2 separate regions of the Homo sapiens genome follow, and region 2 is linked to region 1. Evidence: fine-mapped expression QTL. A gene starts in region 1. The other region holds a variant in brackets. All regions are shown on one strand. Distances are from middle to middle.

Evidence for each region. PIP is the estimated chance that this variant, and not a neighbour inherited with it, causes the effect.
Region 2: its variant is the best candidate, but not a certain one, in a credible set for the expression of ATP6V1D in lung (TOPMed, PIP 0.57).

The regions. Positions count from the first base shown.
Region 1 is chr14:67,354,646-67,365,463 of GRCh38, forward strand. ATP6V1D (ATPase H+ transporting V1 subunit D) reads right to left here and starts at 5,159. Exons shown (of 9, transcript NM_015994.4): 1 at 5,013-5,159. The coding sequence starts at 5,053. EIF2S1 (eukaryotic translation initiation factor 2 subunit alpha) reads left to right here and starts at 5,683. Exons shown (of 8, transcript NM_004094.5): 1 at 5,683-5,811; 2 at 10,122-10,363. The coding sequence starts at 10,123. It also overlaps a transcript of GPHN not described here. RefSeq lists enhancers at 4,270-5,056, 4,899-5,118, 5,139-5,938.
Region 2 is chr14:67,329,358-67,339,761 of GRCh38, forward strand. It overlaps PALS1 (protein associated with LIN7 1, MAGUK p55 family member), which reads left to right. Exons shown (of 15, transcript NM_022474.4): 15 at 3,423-6,704. The coding sequence ends at 3,599. It overlaps ATP6V1D (ATPase H+ transporting V1 subunit D), which reads right to left. Exons shown (of 9, transcript NM_015994.4): 9 at 8,515-9,405. The coding sequence ends at 9,264. It also overlaps a transcript of GPHN not described here. Among named protein-coding and RNA genes, the nearest start is that of ATP6V1D, 25 kb to the right of the region's middle. The variant T/C (reference allele first, on the strand shown) is at 5,642.

The DNA of each region.
Region 1 (10,818 bases):
ATATAACAGTCTTATTTATGCAAAGTAAGGAAAAAATGTGCTTATATAGATGCAGAGAATAGTTCTAGAAAGGATTCACAAAAACTGGCAAGAGTTACCTTTGATAAATGGGACTGGATGAAAAATATGGATTTACTTTTTACTACTATATTCTTTTGTACCTTTTGCATTTTATTTTATTTTTTGAGGTGAAGTTTCACTCTTGTTGCCCAGGCTAGAGTGCAATGGCGCGATCTCGGCTCACTGCAACCTCTGCCTCCCAGGTTCAAGCGATTCTCCTGCCTCAGCATCCCGAGTAGCTGGGATTACAGGCATGCGTCACCATGCCTGGCTAATTTTTTATTTTTAGTAGAGACAGGTTTCTCCATGTTGGTCAGGCTGGTCTCGAACTCCTGACCTCAGGTGATCCGCCCACCTCGGCCTCACAAAGTGCTAGGATTACAGGCATGAGCCACCGCACCTGGCCTGCATTTTTTATACCACAATAATTTACCACATTTTCTATTAAAAGTGTGGTATTAACATGTTTTGATATCATCAATCAAGATCCTAACAGCAATCATTTTATTAATTTGTAAAAGACTAGGTAACAAATGACATACGTAAGATTCCTGAGAAATGACAAGCTAAATTTACACTGAAGTCTCCTCACTTCCTTGTTTCAATTTTTTTCCCCATCAGAAGCCCCAATACCAAAGTCAAGCAGAAACTGACATTTCTGTTCTTGCTGCCATATGCCAGATACAATTTAATAATGAAAAAAGTGGAGCCCAGTTCGAGGATGTAGAAGTAAGACCCTGTCTCAAAAAAAAAAAAAAAAAAAAAAAAAAAAAAAGACTAGAAATAAAATGTCATACCATGCAGTAGTACATGCTACAATAAAATTAAAATAAGGAATTATGACAGAAGCAAACATGGTGTTCACTTTAGATTGGGTGATCAGGAACAGCCTCTCTTAAGAGACTAGAACAGCCAAAGGAGCCAGTTATAAGTTCCGGGGAAAGAGTATTTCAGGCAGGAAAAAGAGCTAATGAAAAGTACCTGGAGGACCTTAGGAAGAATGCTCTAAATAAGGTAAGTGGTACAGTGGCTTATGTCTATAATCAGCACTTTGGGAGGCTAAGGTGGGTAGATTGCTTGAGTTCAAGACCAGCCTGGGAAACAAGGTGAAACCCTGTCTCTACAAAAAAAAAAAAATATCAAAATTACCTGGGCATGGTAGGGCACACCGGTAATCCCATATACAAAGAAGGCTAAGGTGAGAGGACTGATTGAGCCCAGGAGGTTGAGGCAGTGAGCTGTGATCATGCCACTGCACTGCAGCCTGGACAACAGAGCAAGACTCGGTCTCAAAAAAACAAGTGTTTGGGTAATAAAATTCAACAATAAGGTTGTATAACCTAGACACAGTATAACCTAGACACAGTGATTTAAGGGGATATAATTTCATATGACTGGTGTTTTAAAATCGCATGTACTAATAAACTTTTTTGGCCAGGTGCAGTGGCTCACACCTGTAATACCAACACTTTGGGAGGCCGAGGCAGGTGGATAACTTGAGGTCAGGAGTTCGAGACCACCCTGGCCAACATAGTGAAACCCCATCTCTACCAAAAAATACAAAAATTAGCTGGGTATGGTGCTGCATCCCTGTGGTCCCAGCTACTCAGGAGTCTGAGGCACAAAAATCACTTGAACCTGGCAGGCAGAGGTTGCAGTGAGCCAAGATCGGGTCACTGCACTCCAGCCTGGGCAACAGAGGGAAAACCTGCCTCAAAAAAACAAAAACAAAAAAAAAAAAACAAAAACAAACAAACACCATTTGGCCAAATTCTTAAATTATACTGGAATCTTTTACCATAGGGCTAAGATCACTAAGACAATTCTATAGCTGAAAGGGACTTTAGACATTAACTTAAAGATTAGAAAAATGAGGCTTAGAAAAGTAAAACAACTTTCTCAAAGTTACTCAGTGAAGAAAAGGCAGGGCAGGGACTTGAACCAGACTTTTGATTCCACTGACTTTCCCAATGCTCAAACTAAGGCTCCAACCTACGTTCACTGTACCCCAAACATGTGCCTCCCCTTAAAGAGAACAATTATCACTGGCTGACTCTGCACTGACTGGTCTCACAAGAGGTCTTATCAAGTGAAGGTCGTTTAGTTTCCAGCCTGAGAAGGAGCTATCCATCTCAATGTGTGCATTTAACATAATGTATTGTTGATAGTAAATACTAGAACTTGGGCTCAAAGAGCTGGATCAAATTTAAGTCAAATTGTAGTACTGCATATTCCAGCCAGTTTATAGTAAAAGGTAAACTGGTTGATAAAATTGAATTTACCATGTTAATTTTATTTTCCTCCTAGGGAATGGCATCTTTGTGAAATGGGCAATTTTAATTCCTGAAACTCTAAGAGCAGCGTGCACACTTACAGCTAATATGTAGCAGAACCTGGATTTAGTGGACTTCTGTTGACTCCAAATTTTTCATGCGTCTTTTACTTCCACTCTACAATTGTTTTTGCTTTCTCTGGTACGAAAGTGGGTGAAAGTAACATCACAGAATAATACTGTTGAATGGAAATGTCTGTGAAACAAGCTGCCAGTATATTTTCTAGCCTATGGCTTTTAAAACTTGCTCCTTTACATGTTTCAGAGCTGCTCAGTCCTACTCAAAAAGTTTGACCTTTAGCTAGGATGATGACTTTTCTTCCAGCTGAATCAAAGACATCTGACTACATGACAAAAAGCCTGCTGCCAGCCATGGGGAAAATATTTAGAGAAGAGATTATTTCCTGCACCTGATTTTCCTCTCAATCAGCAAGCTGAGAGCTTTCAAATAGTAGTTTCACCTTCATGAGCCTATCATTTTCTTACCTAAGCCCAAAGATGTCTATTTTTGCCTCTTAGTCTCAAAGTAAAAGTTTCAAAGTAAAAACAAAAAAGTTATTCTGACTGCTGTCAAAGATAAACCCAGCCAGACATTCGTTAAAGTAGTGAAAACAGATTTTATTCAGTAAACCACTGATAGTAGGGGAAAGGGCTGAGCTCAATTCTCATTTGTGCAGAGGTGACTGGCCATTTTAAAAAAGAGAGTAAGGGAGTGGCAGGGAGCCAGCCGCAAGAAGAGTCAGAGAAGAGAAACCTTAAAGTGTTGGTCAGTGTAAACGCCATACTACCTGGCAATTAGTAAGTTACTATTCTATCCTCTCACACAGACTGGGAGACAAAGCCCCTATCCCTCCTGATGATTACGTTTCAAAGAAATGGCTCTCAAAGATACTTGAAGGGACACTTCAGAGTTGGAAGAGATACATATTAACAATTGTAAGCCTGTTTCGTAAATGCTCTAAAAAGGGAACGAGAGGGGTCTATCAATTAGGTGTTGACTAGAACAAACAGTAAATTCTCCCCCTAGCTTTGAGCTTTTTCAGGCAGGCATTTTAATGGCGGGGGCGGCGGGGGGCGGCCTGGGGTCACCCTAGGGGCAGGCCTTACATTGCTAGAAGATAAACTAGTGTCGATGTCTTTCAGTGCAGAAGTTTTGACTGAGTCATCACGTCCTAGGAGTTCTGCAGTTGTCACTACCTCGGGATAGTCCTCATCTTTATTTCCCCACAACTAGCTTGCTGCCTACTTAGTGCAAACAGCTATTAGAAAGTCAACAGGTGAAGGTAAAAAATTTAAAAACTTCATTTCATTAAGAGCTATTTAGTCACCGGGCAGAAAGAAATCTGGGCTTCAGGTTTGAATATAACTTTTATTTTAAGCATCCTCAGATTCTCTCAAAGGACAGAATGAGGAAAAACAACAAAACACCCCCACAGAGATAGGACCACAATAAAAGGGTCTAAATGTCAGGGTCAAAACTGATTTTCTGCTTCCTCACTGAAAAGAAAAAGGGAAAGCCAGGCGCGGTGGCTCCCATCTATAATCTCAGCCGCCAGGGAGGCTGAGGCCGGAGGATCACTTGAGCCCAGGGGTTTGAGGCTGCTGTGAGCTCTGATCATACCACTGCACCCCAGCCTGGGAGACCCTGTCTCTTATTAAAACAAACAAACAACAAACTAAATAAAAATAAACAGGATGAGGAGGAGAAAGGGAGCAAGTTGTTAGGCACATTTGAGAAAACGTCAAAATTTTCCTTACAAACTAGCCAAACACCTACAGTGATATGCCATTTTCCTGACAAAGAATTCAGGCCCCAAAAGAAAGGCAGCCCACAACTGAGCGTATTCCCAAGCATGAGTTCTTTCAAGAAATATTTTTTTGTGGACCTTCTATGGATTAAGACACTCTTTCATCCTGGAGAGAGCCCACAGTCTAGTGGGAGAGAAAGACACATAAACAAATATCTACTTTACAGCGTGATGACCGGTATTAACACAGGTCTGAACAAGGTGCAGCGGTGAGAGAGCAAAAGCAGTGCCTCAGAAACACAGGGATATCCTCTCACAGCAGGTGACATTTGGCGGGATCTTGGAAAATGAGTAAGGGGATCCAAGATCGAATCCGAGGGCTATGCTAGGGCGATTCGATTCCATCCCCACTTTGGCTTAGGGACCTCTTCTATATCCTCAGTAAACTTCCCTTCTCAGAGCATTTATTAAAACCTCCTTGGCCTTTCCAGACGAATGTCTGGCTACGTAAACTGTGAGCTCTGTAGGGCAGAGGTGGCGACGGTTCAGTTATATAAATCCAGTGCCCGGCTCAATAAGGGTATGTGGAATGGATGAATCCATTAATGAATAAAGACAGCAGACCTCCACAAAAGCCCGCCGGCCGGGCGCCTTTTCCTACCGGCTGGGATCGCTTCGTCCAGCCTGATTCACTCAGGAGGAATGCGCGAAGAGGCCGTCAGGAAGCCTCGCCCTAGACTCAAGAAAAGAACCTGGGAAAAGCTCAGGATCCTCCCAGGAAACAAGGACCCTCACTGTGGCCCAGGGTCTGAAGGGACCGCGCTCCGGGTTCCTAAACCTGTGAAAGCGGCTTATCCCATTCCTTTACTTACATTCGCGAGGGAAAGATTTCAATTCGGTCTTTGCCCGACATTCTGACGATAACTTTTCGGCTCGGGTCCCCGGCCGGGCAACCGAGGCTGCAATAGCTCCAGAACTGGCCTCCACAGTGTCTTCCTCTACGGGAGTCAGCTGGTTGTGTCACTTGACCCCTCTTGTTGCTAAGAGGCAGCAGGGACACCCATTTTCACTTCCGCTTCCGGTTGTCACAGGCGACGAAGGGGGAGGACAGAACAGAGGCGTTGCCCGGATGTCGAGGCGCGCGCACCGCGGAACCACCCCTCAATTCCGGTTCGCCTCCCAACCCCTCCCCATCCAGCTTCCCTGCGGCTGCGCAATACGCGGCACGCGCCAGGCCAAAGACTAGGAGCGAAGCGTGCACGCCTTGTCTTTCTCCACCTTTCGTCTTTGGTCACAGCGCCATCTCATGGTTAGCTGAAACTTTGAAAGAGGATTCATTCTTCAGAGGCAAGGAATCGGAGTCCTATGTCTTTCTCGCGCCTTGAAGGTTACTTAGCTAAAGCTAAGATAGCGAGAAACAGTACTTTTCAGGTCCTTCCATGATCTACATTCGTCCTTGTTCTCGGAGGACCCAGACTCTATGGTTAATGATGAAGAGGGGCCTCTATTCGTTCAGCGCTTGCGCATGCGAGGAGGTTCCGCATGCGCGGTGGAGTGAGCGAAGCGCACGCTGAGGAGGATCGGCGGCCGGTGAGGGGGAAGCAAGTCTGGTCTCTGTGATTGAAGAAGTCGGCTCTGGGCTCCAGTGCGGGAATCACACACATACCTCAGGTGACTAATCCCAAGCTCGGTTTCTCCAGGAACTCACTTTGGTTTGTGTCCAGTGACATGGGTGTTCGAGAGCGGGTAGGCCCCGGGCTAATACCTCCCTTTCCCGTCCCTGCGCGGGAAGTGGCTGGACAGCACCGCCACCACCCGCGCTGTCGTGGGCCTCCTCGCCGGCTCCGTGTAGGTCATCCTGTGTTCCAGAGGCATCGTTGTTCGAGCAGAGGAATCTCGTGAAGGAAAGTGGGCCGAGTGGATTGTACAGCCTCTACAATATGCCGAAAGTGAGAATGCCATGACGATGGGGCGGTCTCAGGAGAACGCTGTGACACCGTAACTCTTAACCCCGGCTCAGGACGCTGAGCACTTTGCTTTTTCCAGGCTTGAGAATTCCATCTTTTCTTCCGCCCCAACAGCTCTACCAAAAATTTCCCCTGCGTCTCAGTGGAAACCAAACTGGCCTCTTACCTGAGAAACCTGTGGGACGGGCACCGTGTTGGAAAGAGCGGGGTCCGAGTAGTTTTTCATCTGATAATTGAATGAGTCACCCCTTGAACCAAAACTAAATGAGACTTGAGTTTATTACTGTTACTATCAGTTTGTCGTATTTTGGCGACAATGAGAATAGAACTGTGTTAAGCATATGTTAGGTTAACTATGTTAGTTAAGCATAACTAAAACCTAAGATAAGGATATATTTTCGGGTTAAATACACAGTCATGCTGAGGTCTCTTTATCCTCAAAACTTAGGCTTTTTAAATTTTTATTAAGCAAAAAACATGGTTTCTTCGAGAAAAAGTATAGCAGAGAAGTCTTTATTTCCCCTCAATTGAGTTGTTATTCAAGGAACAATCTCTGTCAATAGTTTGGGGGTGACTTGTACAGAACTTTGCTACCTATTCTTAGTTCATCTGGTGCCAAAAGATGTAGTTGTCTCATGCACAGTAATGTTTGTAGAGATTCGGTGATAACTTTCTTTTTCAACTATAATGATGAAATAAAAGCTTTACTTATGTAGCACTCCTATACCAAGAACTAGCATTCAGAGAGCATTCCTAATACGTGTTAGATCCAAATTAGAATTATCACGAGAGTTGTCCCCATCACATAATATATTTTGGAAAGGAATGTGAACTTCTATATCCATTATAGCAGTTTGACCATGCACTGTTTTGAGAAAGAAGTCCTACCTACCATTTGTCATGCAAAATAACTGACTATGCAGGGTATTTGAAATTAGCCTGGAGTTTGGTTGATATATTTTGAAAGGTGGCTGATACTTTTTACATCAGAACACATAAGAGTATTATAGCATGTTGTGATATTGAGGTTCTGTGGGTTAAAGACATTCTGGATTTGATGTCGGATTACTTGAGTTTAGCTCCTACGCTAGTACTTATTAAGCATTTGTTCTTAAGGAAGTATTATAATTTAGTATTTCTGTTCCACCTTTCCTGTTCATTGCTTCACTGTGCCCTTTCATAGTACTTTGTATTGTAATTATTTGCTTGCTAGTTTGTTTCCCACTCTATACTTAATTACTTAGGTAAGAGTCTTTTTTTTTTTTCTTTTTTCTTTTTTCTTTTTTTTTTTGAGACAGAGTCTCTGTTGCCCAGGCTGGAGTGTAGTGGCACGATCTCAGCTCACTGTAGCCTCTGCCCCTGGGTTCAAGGGATTCTCCTGCCTCAGCCACTATAGTAGTGGGATTACAGGTGCCTGCCACCACACCCAGCTAATTTTGGTATTTTTAGTAGAAATGGGGTTTCACCATGTTGACCAGGCTGGCCTCGAACTCCTGGTTTCAAGTGATCCACCCGCCTCGGCCTCCCAAAGTGCTGGGATTACAGGTGTGAGCCACTGCGCCTGGCCTGGTAAGAGTCTTTCTTGTTGTATCATTAGTGCTTAGTACATAGTAGCTACTGAAAAAAAAATTAACAAATTATTATATTACAAAATGGAAATACCTTCTTTTTCTTTCAATATTTTATGTTTGACTAGCACATAATGGTTTTCAAAATGTTTTTACGTATACATGTGATACCCTCAGTAAACCTGTGATGTACATGGCACAGATGAGAAACTACAGTTCAAAGGATGTTATCTTTCCCAAGCAGCCACTTCTAGTAAGTAGCAGAGCAAGGACTGGAACACAAGGCTAGAGTTGTTCCCCGAGTTTACTATGTTAATTGCCTGATTTGACACTTCTTGAGGACCAAATAAAATAAGAATGCTGTGAAAAAGATAAAGAGGTGAAGTCACCTAGTGTGACTTCGATATTGCGGAATGATTTTTTTAAGTTAAAAAAAAAATTTAAGTTATTAGCATTTCATTAGGCAATATGTTCAAAAATTGTCAACCAATATGCAGGTTTTTGTGGTATGGATTCTTTTTGTACTTAACTACTATCTATCTTTACTATGAATAACATACCATCAACAGTATTCCTTTACTTACCCTTTATGTTGCAAAGAGACTTGTGCCTCCTGAAGAAATAGTATTCATAGTCATATCCCTTCAGGATTCTCTTACATGATTGCCCATGTTTTTTAACCATCAAATTAAGCCTTGCTTCCCCTAAAAGCATCACCTTTACTGTTTGGAGAAGCTTGGTAAGTAAATGTGGTTTTCACTGGTCAAATGTCTTGCAACTGTTCCATACATTTCTGTAACATAGTTTATTTTTATGCCCAATTTGAAACTTTTTAGCTCTCAAATTTGAGAGCTTTACATACACATATTCAACAACAGTTTCCCCACCCCCACCCTCGAAAAGCCCTGTTTAAAAACGAAACAAACAGTCAGCTGTTTCTTGGTGGGTAAGGCCATTGAATGTCTACTTCTCTTTATTTGCTAAATCCCTATTTTGTAGGGATTTTGTATTCCCTACAAAGAAATACATCTCTGCTACTGTCATTAATATGCTGCTCTTTGTTGTCAAACAGATGAGTACTAATAGTTTGCACTTATTGGTGTTATGTACTCTGGCACTGAATATATATTAATGTTGCTTTTTAAGTAAAATGTTTCTAATTATAATATATTTATGAATAGTTTTGAGAGAATATAGTCTTACTGATAAGAGGACAGACTCTGGATCCAGACTTCATGGATTCAAATCCTGACTCATCACCTGTTAGCAGTATGTGAAAGAACAAGTAACTTAACCTGTGCTTCAGTTTTTTAATCTATAAAATGGGGAGAACTAGGGAGAAAGTTGTACCACAAGGAGATAGGCAATGGCCAGATCATATAGGATTCTGTAGGTAGTGGAAAGATACATAAGTCAGTGGGAAGCCACTGAGAAGATATAGGCAGGTGCCAATTAATAAGTTATTATATGAATTTTCACAAGGTTTTCTTAGGCCTTTAAGTTCTGTTACTACCTACGTTTTGAGCAGTGACAACAGTGAAGGTTAACAGAAAAACATGAAAATCATCAGCCATGATTAGTTTGAGAGCTTCCTTTTTTAAATATGCTTCTACCCAGGCTATGATTTCAGGCTTGTGGATCATAAAAGGAGTAGTGCTGAAAGTAGGTTGGGTGGATCAAAGGGAATAATTGTAAATATCTTTAATGCTTGGAGGTTAAGAGAAACTTGAACTTTGTAGTAATGGAGATTAAAGCTATTCTCAAGATTAGGTATACCTATTCAATAAAAGAAAGGAATATTTGGGAGTATTGGGGATAAGAGAAGCTAGACATTGTGAATTCAAGGAAAAAGAATTATGAGAGGAGGATGCATTTTAGTTTATTTTGTGATTAAAATTTTTTTAGTTTTTGTTGTTTTGACATGTGACACTGTAATTTTGGCTATAATAAATGACAGAATGTATCATTTGGTATATTGGTTAGGGTTTAGGTAGAAAATTTTTTCCTTTATATAGTGAGTGGTAGCGTATACAATGTTTGCTCACTTCGGCAAAGAGTAGCTTTAGTTTTCTGATTAGTTATAATAGTGATGCTTCCCATCATTTGATATGCCTTAAAGTAGTATTTTACTCTTGAGGTATTCCTTTAATCCTTAGGTCTTGGAGTACTTTATAGATGGTCATTATTTTTTATGATTCCTCTGAAACTAAAGGCAGAGAATCACCCAAGCATTACAAAAATGTTGAGCAAAATAAAAATTAAAGCTTGGTTCCTGAACATTATCTGTTTTCTGGTACCACTTAAGAAGTTTCAAAGGATGAGAAGACTAAGACTAATAACTATTTTTTTCTTCATCTTTTCTTTCAGTGGCAGGATGTGGAAATTGATTTTTTTTTTATTTTCACCTTAACTGAATACTTACTTAATTCTTTTGTTTAAATTGCAGAATGCCGGGTCTAAGTTGTAGATTTTATCAACACAAATTTCCTGAGGTGGAAGATGTAGTGATGGTGAATGTCAGATCCATTGCTGAAATGGGGGCTTATGTCAGCTTGCTGGAATACAACAACATTGAAGGCATGATTCTTCTTAGTGAATTATCCAGAAGGCGTATCCGTTCTATCAACAAACTCATCCGAATTGGCAGGAATGAGTGTGTGGTTGTCATTAGGGTGGACAAAGAAAAAGGTAAGTGAGAAAAATATCTGTAATATAAATTTCAGATTTAAAATGGTTTATTTAAAAATACATTTTTTGTAAATTGCAAGCTGCAGCTTAAAAAAAAAAGCTCCTTTTATACTTAAACCTTTTACATACAAAGTTGTTAGAAAAGGATGCCAATTAGCTATCTAAGCAAGATCTCTTAATAGTAGTTTAATTAGTACATCCTAGGATTTTATGGATCAGATAACTTGAATTTTATTTCTAGTGTTTATCAGGATCTTGATAATTGACTCATGGTAACCAAACTTAGAGACAGGTAAGTCAGAGTACTAGTTCATTTACATTGGTAGGCCTGAATATGTTGGATGCCTTTTTCTTGATTTAAAGCTAAAATAGTAATGAGATCACTGGGTAAGCATGAAAATGGGGCAAATGGATTTTAGGGATCTTTTATATAAGCTTTGAAAAAGCAATATACT
Region 2 (10,404 bases), 25 kb before region 1:
CAGCTTAAGGAGATTTTGGGCTGAGACGATGGAGTTTTCTACATGTACAATCATGTCATCTGCAAACAGGGATAATTCGACTTCCTCTTTTCCTAATTGAATACCCTTTATTTCTTTCTCCTGCCTGATTGCCCTGGCCAGAACTTCCAACACTGTGTTGAATAGGAGTGGTGAGAGAGGGCATCCCTGTCTTGCGCCAGTTTTCAAAGGGAATGCTTCCAGTTTTTGTCCATTCAGTATGATATTGGCTGTGGGTTTGTCATAAATAGCTCTTATTATTTTGAGATACGGCGGACGCATCACTTGAGGCCAGGAGTTCGAGACCAGCCTGGGCAACATAGTGAAATCCTGTCTCTACTAAAAATACAAAAAACATTAGCCAGGCATGGTGGTGCACGCCTGTGGTACTGGCTACTGAAGAGGCCGAGTTCGTGCTACTGCACTCCAGCCTGGGCAACACAGCAAGACTTGGTCTCAAAAATAAATAAATAAATAAATAAATAAATAAATAAATAAATAAATAGATATAGAAACTAAGAAGATGATGGTGTTACTCACTGGATGCAAAATGTAACCAACCAGTTATGTAATTGTACTCTGAATCTGTTCTTCTAGTATTGTGAAAGAATGGTATTGGCATAAAGATGTGATTTTTTTCTTGTATGTATTGTTAAAGTCACAGAAAATCATCTATATTGTGGTAAGAGAGAATATATGCCAGACAAATGCTCTGCTGTCTGTCAGAAAGAGGAATAAAGACACAATCTGGAACCAGGAAATAAATAATAATAATAATAATTATTATTATTATTATCAAAAGGAATAATCAGACACTTTAGCAAAAGAAATAAGTTGGAGGGCATTTGTCTTTATTGTCTCTTTTCTATTTAATTCATTTCTTTTTATGCTTTCTTTGACTATAATTTGCACTTGCTTTAGTTTCTCAAGATGAATGCTTAATTTTTAAACTCTTCTTTTCAAATGTAGGCATTTGAAATTATAAATTTCCCTCGAAACAGTTCTTTAGTTGCATCCCGTAAGTTTTGGCATTGTATTTTTGTTACCATTTTGTTAGAAGTATTTTCTAATTTCCCTTCATTTTTTTTTTTTTTTTTTTTGAGATGGGGTTTCGCTCTTGTTGCCCAGGCTGGAGTGCAGTGGCACTATCTCTGCTCACTGCAACCTCTGCCTCCCGGGTTCAAGCAATTCTCTTGCCTCAGCCTCCCGAGTAGCTGGGATTATAGGCATGCACCACCACGCCCAGCTAATTTTGTATTTTTAGTAGAGATGGGGTTTCTCCATGTTGGTCAGGCTGGTCCCAAACTCCCGACCTCAGGTGATCCACCTGCCTCAGCCTTCCAAAGTGCTGGGATTATGGGCCTGAGCCCCCGGCACCCCGCTTCCTTGTTTTTCTCTTTAACACATGAGTTATTTAGAAGTATGTTATATAGTTTCCACCTATTTGGAGATGTGAAAAAGATTTTAACTGATTTATAATTCCAGGTGGTCAGACCCTGAAAGATGTCAGTCTTTTCAAATTTGTTGAGCCTTATTTTATGGCCCAACATCTGTTCTTTCTTGGTGAATGTTCTGTGCACACCTGTTAGGATGTGTATTCCACAGTTTTTGGTGTAGAGGATGGTGTATCTGATTGTATTTATTCTACTTAAGTTTTTTTCTCCTGTGATATTTCTTTCTTTTTTTTGAGACAGAGTCTCACTCTGTCGCCCAGGCTGGAGTGCAGTGGCACAATCTTGGTTCACTGCAACCTCTGCTTCCTGGGTTTAAGTGATTCTCATGCCTCAGCCTCCCAAGTAGCTGGGATTACAGATGTGCACCATCACGCCTGGCTATTTTTTGTATTTTTAATAGAGACGGGGTTTTGCCCTGTTGGCCAGGCTGGTCTCAAGCTCCCGGCCCCATGTGATCCACCTACCTTGGCCTCCCAAAGTGCTGAGATTACAGGCGGGGGAGCCCCTGCGCTGGTATTGGTATTTCTAATAGTGCTTTATTACTCAATGATAGAAGTGCTGAAGTAAAACAGATTTTCAATTTTAACTCTATAAAATTGTGCTAAGAAAATGATGGCGTTACAAAATGTAACCAACCGGTTATCTAGTTGCATTCTGAATCTCTGAATCTGTTCTGCTAGTATGAAGGCTTGAGAGTGGCTATCTAGCAGTATGAACTTATTGTCAGTTTTGCCTAGTTCAGCTAAAAATTTTGAGCTAAAACATTTTGTTTCATCTTAGTCGTGGATTGTAATTTGAAAGAGAACTTCAGACATGAAGTACTAAATAAGTGATATAAGCCATTTTGGCACAAAATGGAATAACAATGCCTTAAATTTGATAAAAACTAGGTGGATTCGGGCTTTATCATTTTCATTTCAACTCCAATACCACAAAGTTTCAGTTCTCTGTGGAGTCCTAGAATGTTCTTCCAATAATCTTGAGCTTACGGTAGACATAAGTTTTAGCAAAAATGTCAGTGTGTTCAGTTACAGTGGTGAAGTAGATTCCCTGCTGGGAACAAAGGATTCTGTGTGCCATATTCAGATGTACAACATTCCAGAATGAGAGTCATGCAAGAAACTGCCTCAGGACAAGCCAGAGTTGTCATATTTTTAATATGTTTTCTTACTGTTACAGAAGTTCAAACAGTTGAATGATATAAATTGTTTTGTACTATGGGTCCAATATAGTATTGATGTGTGACTTTTATATCTGAGACATTTTGTCTTGAGTTTAAGTTAGTTGTCTTCATTGGCAGGGGTGATTTGAGGTGAGTTTCACTTTCTTGAACCCATGTGCCTGATAATTAGAGGGTTCAGGATAAGTTTTGCACATAGCCTTGCTGCCTGCTTATCTTTGTAAAATGGCCCTTTCCTTCAGTCAGTATTTTAAAGTAGGCTACTCTATATAGTTTCCCAAACTCTGGTAGGATACTTTTAACTCTCTGCAGCAGATAGTATAGGGCAAGGGCTCTTTACTAGAGCCAAAAGTAAATGGCATTTTAGGTCCTTGCTCCAACCAGAAAGGTTCACTCCATATTACAGATGTTACTATTAGGAAGAGGTTATAGTGTCTAGAATGTTTGAAAACAAATGTTTGTAGGGAAACAGTGTGTGTTCTTGAAGCTTGTAGTTTTGTTGGTGAGATAAGACAAAATATGTGAAAACCTAAATAGTGGTATAAAACAGGATATATTGAGTCCCAGATGGTTCATAATATGAGTCGTGAAGATGCCAAAGCAAAGGTAACCATTGTGGCCGTGACAGGGTTGGAAAGGAGCTCCTGAGGTTGGGAGAGACAGAAGGAAAGCTATGAAGGTCGCTCCTTGTTCTTTGGCCATCTCTGACTCATCCTATATTATTTGGTTAGGAAAGGAATTATCTCACAGTTTTTATCTTCTGTTTGCAGCCTGAAGAGTTGAGAGAAATCATTGAGAAGACAAGAGAGATGGAGCAGAACAATGGCCACTACTTTGATACGGCAATTGTGAATTCCGATCTTGATAAAGCCTATCAGGAATTGCTTAGGTTAATTAACAAACTTGATACTGAACCTCAGTGGGTACCATCCACTTGGCTGAGGTGAAAGAAACATCCATTCTGTGGCATGTTGGACTTGATCTGGCAAAAACTGCCAATAGGAGGACTGCCCGACACTGCAGCAAGATTGAGGATAAGATGGAAGGCAGCAGTATAAGCTGTAGATCTGTTCTTAGATCTCTTGAATTAGTGAGACGACAGTTCCCTTAGGCAGTTTGTGCATGGCATCCTTTATTCTCTATACATGGCTTTAGCGGTTCTTGCCTCATTTTGGGATTCTAAATGGAAGCTTTCAACAGAGCATTCCATTTTGTCCTGTTAAAACCTTTTGTTTTCACCTAAACCCTTTCTGCTTAGTTGTATCTCTGTGAAAAACTTGTATACACAAGCGTCCATGTCTCACACAAATATTGATGTGATTATTCTTAAGTGTTAAATCATTAACACTTAAATGACTTCATTGGGAATATTGAGCAGAGGGACTGTGCTTCTATGCACTGGGCAAGGCAGTATTTGCTTAGGAAACTAATTTAGTCATCAGAGATACTTTCCTAAAAAGGAAAAATAAAAAACAAAATGGTGCCACTTTGGGTTGAAGCTACTTTGTTAGGCTTGAATTCATTTATATGTCTTTTGATTCTTAAAAAAACAAAAAACATTCCATTAGAAGCACCAGTTTTTTTGCTCAGACTTTGTGGATCAGACTCTACACTCAACACACTCTAATCTACTTAAAGGTATACAAAATATGCTGATCTTTTTTAAATTATGATTTCCTGAATTTTTTTCTTAAGTCGTCTCAACTGATTTACTCACTTAGCTTCCCTTCCCTCATCAGCATAGTATAATAGAATGTATGTTACATTTTTATGAATGGCAGGTGTTCATTATAATCTGTATTGACTTAAAAAGTTTCTTCCTCATGATGCTAATAGTTTTTTGTATACATGGGAGGATAGCACATTTGACAGTTTTTGCATTTTTATGTATGAGCACAGTATCCTATGACTGTGCTACGTATATATAGGTAATAAACTGGAATTCTGTTGATGAATATAGCTGCTGTACTGTATATTAATATTTAATAGATCAACAAATGGTCATTGAAAACACTTGTTTAGCATTAGAATAAAATTATATATGTCCTTGGGAAATATTATGACAGTTGACTTTAAGATCAAAAGGAAGGGAAGACCTGAAAGTCATTTGAACATTTTAGGAAAAGAATATTGGAGAGAAAAAGGTATTAAATATATAGAAATAGGTTTTTAACCTAACAAGGTCTGCCTCTTATGACGAGAATGCAACAGCTTGGTAAATCATAAAAGAAACATTTAAGCTAATAGGATTTTCGTACTGTCTCTATAGCTGTAGCTTTAAAATTCAACGTATATAATTGGCATGGAAACTTAATTTGCAGTCTTTTCAAGCCTTTAGGATAGTGTGATGTGTAACAAACAACCTCAAATGTGAATGCCTTGATTTTATTTTTATGGTGACTTTAGCTACAGCATTTCCTATACCCAGAGCTAAACACTGGAATAATACTGACATCATTTAATTTAACATAAGCAATTATGTTTAAGGAGTAATTTGTGTCATGTACATATTTGATTGATTTTTTTTCTTCTACATAATTTTATTTGAACAAATGTAGACAGTTTATATGTCGCCTTTTTCTGTTCAAATTTGCATGGCCTATTAAGTTGGCTGGAGAGTGTTTTATGTGGAAATATTTTCAAGATAATGTTCCTTAGGAAGAAAATAACATTCTTGGGTTGAGGGAAGGAATGCCATACACTACTGTCTCTTCAGATCTGAAATACTCCAGTTTAGAGCCAGGAAATTTCACAGGTCACACCGATTTTTAGCATTAAAAACTAAGGAATATACTTAGCACTTACTTAATCTTTTCAGTTTTCCAGTTTACGTCTCAGGAATGAAGTGTAGTCTATGGTTGACAATGGAGTTTTGTGATCCTGCTTATTGTAACTGACAACTGTTTTCAACTCCAAGAGCTAAACTATTGGCAGTTCATGTTAAGTTAGAGTGAGGGTGTAGGTAGTGTCAGTGAGTGGCTCTTGTGCC[T/C]GCTGTAGACATTAGGCCTGCACTAGGGCCATGTGCTGTCAAGATTCAGGAACATGGCTTTAACAAGCAGATCTTGTATCAAGGCAGAGGTGATGCCATGCCATACTTTTAGGAAGTCTGAGATGATAAATATTTCAAGGTCAGTGAAGTCTATCAATCATTCTCCCCTTCCTCATCAGCAATGGTAGATAGAAATGTCCTAAACTTTTCTAAATCCTAGTGATGAGGATGTGCTGATATTCAACATAGTCCTTAAAGTGAAAACTGAGTTGTTGCTGACCTCCACAAAAGAATATGGAAAAAAGCCTTGCTGTACACCTAGTTGTACAGCCACTCTGGCCAATTCCATTTCCTGTCCCTCTGTGGTTCTGACTGGAGACCCCAGTGTGGGGGAGGTCTTACCATTTAATATAGAAATGATATCAATAACTAATGCTATGTACTTGGAAAATCCAAATAAGGAAGTTTTAGGTTGGTGCATAACTTTGTTTCTCAAATTTTCGTTGTCAGAACAAATGGAAGGAGAATATTATTTAGACTAATCCAGATTTGCTTTCTATGAAAATCTAATGTCTGGATTATCTTCCTTTTCTCATGGCCTAAGAAATAAGGATCAATAAGGAATGATTTGAATGTAATTTTGTGAATGTGTGGAAAATATAAAGCAGGGATTTAGCCTTAATAAAGGTAACCTTCTGACATCTGTTGTTAATCCCCCTTTGTACTCTTTTCCTGTATCTGCACTGTTATTTTGAGATGTCATACTGTACACTGTATTGTAAAAATAAAAAGTAAAATTATATTTCAAATTTTAAAAGCCACTAAGCAATTTCTCTTGCTATTTGCTCGGCCACTCAAGGTTTCCACACATGTAAAGACCACCCTCCTCTTCAAGTTTTTGCCAAAAGCAAGACCATTGGATCCTCCAGCTACAACACAAAATACTTTTTGATTTGTTCTTTACAGAGGGATAGTGCCCCCTGTTGGCACAGGTATAGGTAGGTCCTGTTTCCTTAATTATTAAAACCAACAACTAAGTGTATTAAAGATGGACAACGCAAGGCTGTGAACTTGAAAGTTTTCTGGAGAAGGAGGTATGTAATAATACTCAGGCAAATGGACCTTATGTGCAGCCTGGGATCTGAGGACACTGAGGCAGCATGTGAATTATTGGCAAATATATAACATATTTTGTTTCTCCAGTCTTCATTTCTCCTTTTTTTCTGCTGTACATCTCCCAAAGGTCATAAATCATACACCAACAAACAAAAAGTTTCTTACATATATACACCTGTCACCACAGTTCAGCTTTCCATTCCTATTCCTGATCTATATTCTTCTCCTATGTTTCAGATAACTGACTCCACACAACAAATTATGTGTCCATTGTTTTCTTGATTTCTTTTTAACAAATGCTAAACTATAAAGTCATCTGCACTTTTGTAAGTATTTTAACAAGGCCAATACATTCCAGGTATTTAAGAAGCCACAGGAGAAATCTAGGGTCCTTTGGCTTGTTGCTTTACATTGAATTTACCTACATGTGGAAAACCACTAATCTGGATCCCTACTTCAAACTAATTTTTGCCTCCTAGAAAGGCAGTACGTAATTCTTAAAATATAAAGATCAAATTAAATCAAATCATACTTGACTTGCATTCCAGCTGTGCTCTTTGACTTGTCAAAGTCTCAATTTCCTCATCTGCAAAGTGGAGATGGTAGAATTTACAGTTCAGCAGGCTGTTGGGAAGACGAAATGTTAAACAGTTACCTATTTTTAAAGTACTTGTGAACTGAGTTGTTGGTTTTCCAGTCATTACTGAATTTACACTGAACCTAAGATTTTATTCTGTGAGCAGCAACCAGATTTCCTAAATATCAGCTTCTCCAGAACAGTCCCAATGTCTTTAAATACCCAAAGTTTGAAATATAGATGAAACAGAAAGGAAAAGTTAGGGTGTAAAAATTCTGAAGGTAGACTGCTTAGACTTAAATTCTGGATTTGCTACTTTCTAGCTTTTTAACTTAAGACTACTCAAGTTTCCTGTGTCTCCAATTTTTCCTCTGTAAAATAGGGGGTTAAAATAATATGTGCCTCTTATGGTTGTTGTAATGAAGTAATATAAACAAAATACTTAATACCAGTGCCTGGCACATAACTAAGACCTGCTATCTTATAGGAGATGTTAAATGCTTGCAAAATCATTTAGTACTTTAAAACTGCCTAGACTGGCTGGGCATGGTGGCTTATGCCTGTAATCCCAGCACTTTGGGAGGCCGAGGCAGGCAGATTACTTGAGGTCAGGAGTTCAAGACCAGCCTGGCCAACATGGTGAAACCCCATCTCCACTAAAAATATAAACATTAGCCGGGCATGGTGGCGCAAACCTGTAATCCCAGCTACTCGGGAGACTGAAGCAGGAGAATCTCTTGAATTGAGGAGGCGGACGTTGCAGTGAACTGATGTTGCTGCCACTGCACTCTAGCCTGGGCTACAGAATGAGTGAGACTCTGTTTCAAAAAAAAAAAAAAGAAAGAAAAACTACCTGGACTGTGATGTCACTTGATTAAAATACAGTATTAATAAAGACAGTGTCACAATTTCAGAACTAAACATTATTCCATGGCTAATCATGTCAAAAATGCCTGGAAATGGATGCGAGAAAGACTGAGTCCCCATGGATGGCTCATGCCAAATCAAACAGTACTAAAAACCTCAGACACCTGATGTGGCCACTCAAATGCTTCATCTTCATATATGAAAGCAAGTTTTTATCACTTATAAATAGTAAAAAGTTACCTTATTTCTTACTCTAAAATAGGAACTAGTTATTTTCTTAATTAGCAAATAAGGAAGTATTATAATGCCCTCATAACTCATCGGCAATCATTTATTAGTACCCCAAAATGCAACAGTTGTCTCAAAAGTAAGCCTTTTTGTAAAACTCTAATACATGGAGTGGGAAAAATAGCTACCCACTTCCTACATGTCTGCAGAGAAAGCTCTGGCTGACACTACTGATCTGAGCATGAGAACATGACTTAACAGTAAATTAATAAAAACGGAATGACTTACTTTTAAATCATTTTACTGTTTATACCACAGTCGCATTTAAATTGGCAGAATGGCTCCCATGACAGACAAGACAGGAACCTGTCATGCAAGGAAAAGTGCAGGTTTTCACAAAGTTTGAGAAGTACCATGGTAACAAGAATGGCTGCAGCAATCTCAGACAACAGCGCCAAGGTTTGCAAGTGGGTAGGAATGAAAGCTGCTCCACAGTAATTGGCCTGAGACCGCTAATGCTTCCTAAGAGGTATTTCCTAATATGCTTGGTAAGCAGATCACGTGTAACACAGATGTAAATGGAGTATGATAACGCTTCTGCAAAGTAAATTCTGTAAGTTCCTGGGCAGGTTTTACAGATCTCTTTCATCCATGATAAATGGTTGCTAAATTATGATTCTGCAAAAGTAATCCCATAAATAGACATCTAGGTAAATTTTACAACCAGTGAAATTCTTAGGCCAAAAAATAAATAGCCACACAAATCAAACCTACACACTGTGAATTAAAATGAAGCCAGTGTTAGGGTTTCTCAAAGAACCAGAACAGGAAAGATTATTCAAATAGAAGATCCTCGTCCTTCTCTTCAGCCAGAAGATTAGCAGGCTCCAACACCTCTCCAGCTGCTCTCCTTTGCTCCAAGTCCTTCTCAGATTTTTCCTTTAGAATCTTTTTCTTCTCTTGTATTTTCTTTAACCTGTAAAATACAGGTGGGGGTGGATTTTTTAAACACTGTTTCAATATTAAGTAGATTTGATTTCTTTGAGTTTTGTAACAAGGATAATAAACACATACCTAGAAAAAAACCTGGTACTTTTATTAATTTCATTTTCAGTAATTTATTTATAATCCTTTTTAAAAAACATAATTTTAAGCTAAAAATACATAATTTTAAGCTAATAACTGATTTAACCTGAGACAGAAGCCTTTTTTTTTTTTTTTTTTTGAGATGGAGTCTTGCTCTGTCGCCCAGGGTGGAGTGCAGTGGCGCACGCAATCTTGGCTCACTACAACCTCCACCTTTGCGTTCAAGCAATTCCTTGCCTCAGCCTCCCGAGTAGCTGGGAATACAGGCGCATGCTGCCACACCTGGCTAATTTTTTGTATTTTTAGTAGAGACGGAGGGTTTCACCATCTTGGCCAGGCTGGTCTTGAACTCCTGACCTTGTGATCCACCCGCCTTGGCCTCCCAAAGTGCTGGGATTACAGGCATGAGCCACCGAGCCCAGCCTAGAAGCCTTTATTAGGTTAAATTTTGAAATCCATTCTCGAATGGAACAGATTTTGAGCATTCAGGCATTTTTTTAAAATTTTGGCTCAACACAACCCTGAGTATCATGGAAGGACAGAAACTAACCTTTGATAATTAAGATTATAGACCATAGTTAGATGCTAACTCCAGGTCTAAGACCCCCCATGCCTTTCCTAAATACTCCTGCCCTCACCTACCTCCCATTTCTCTGAACCGAGTATACAGATCCCTGTACACTACCAGTTTAGTATTTATACCTGTTGACTCTAAATGTTCATAACCAATTCATGGACATGCATAATTTCTCTCCAAGTGCTGTGCTAATTCTCTAATGGCGTGATTTATATACTATTTGGTAATGCCTCCAGGTGCTTTATACCTTCTCCTGAACATGAAATACATATTTGTTGAATAACAGCTGAATTCTAGTTTCTTCTCTCAGTT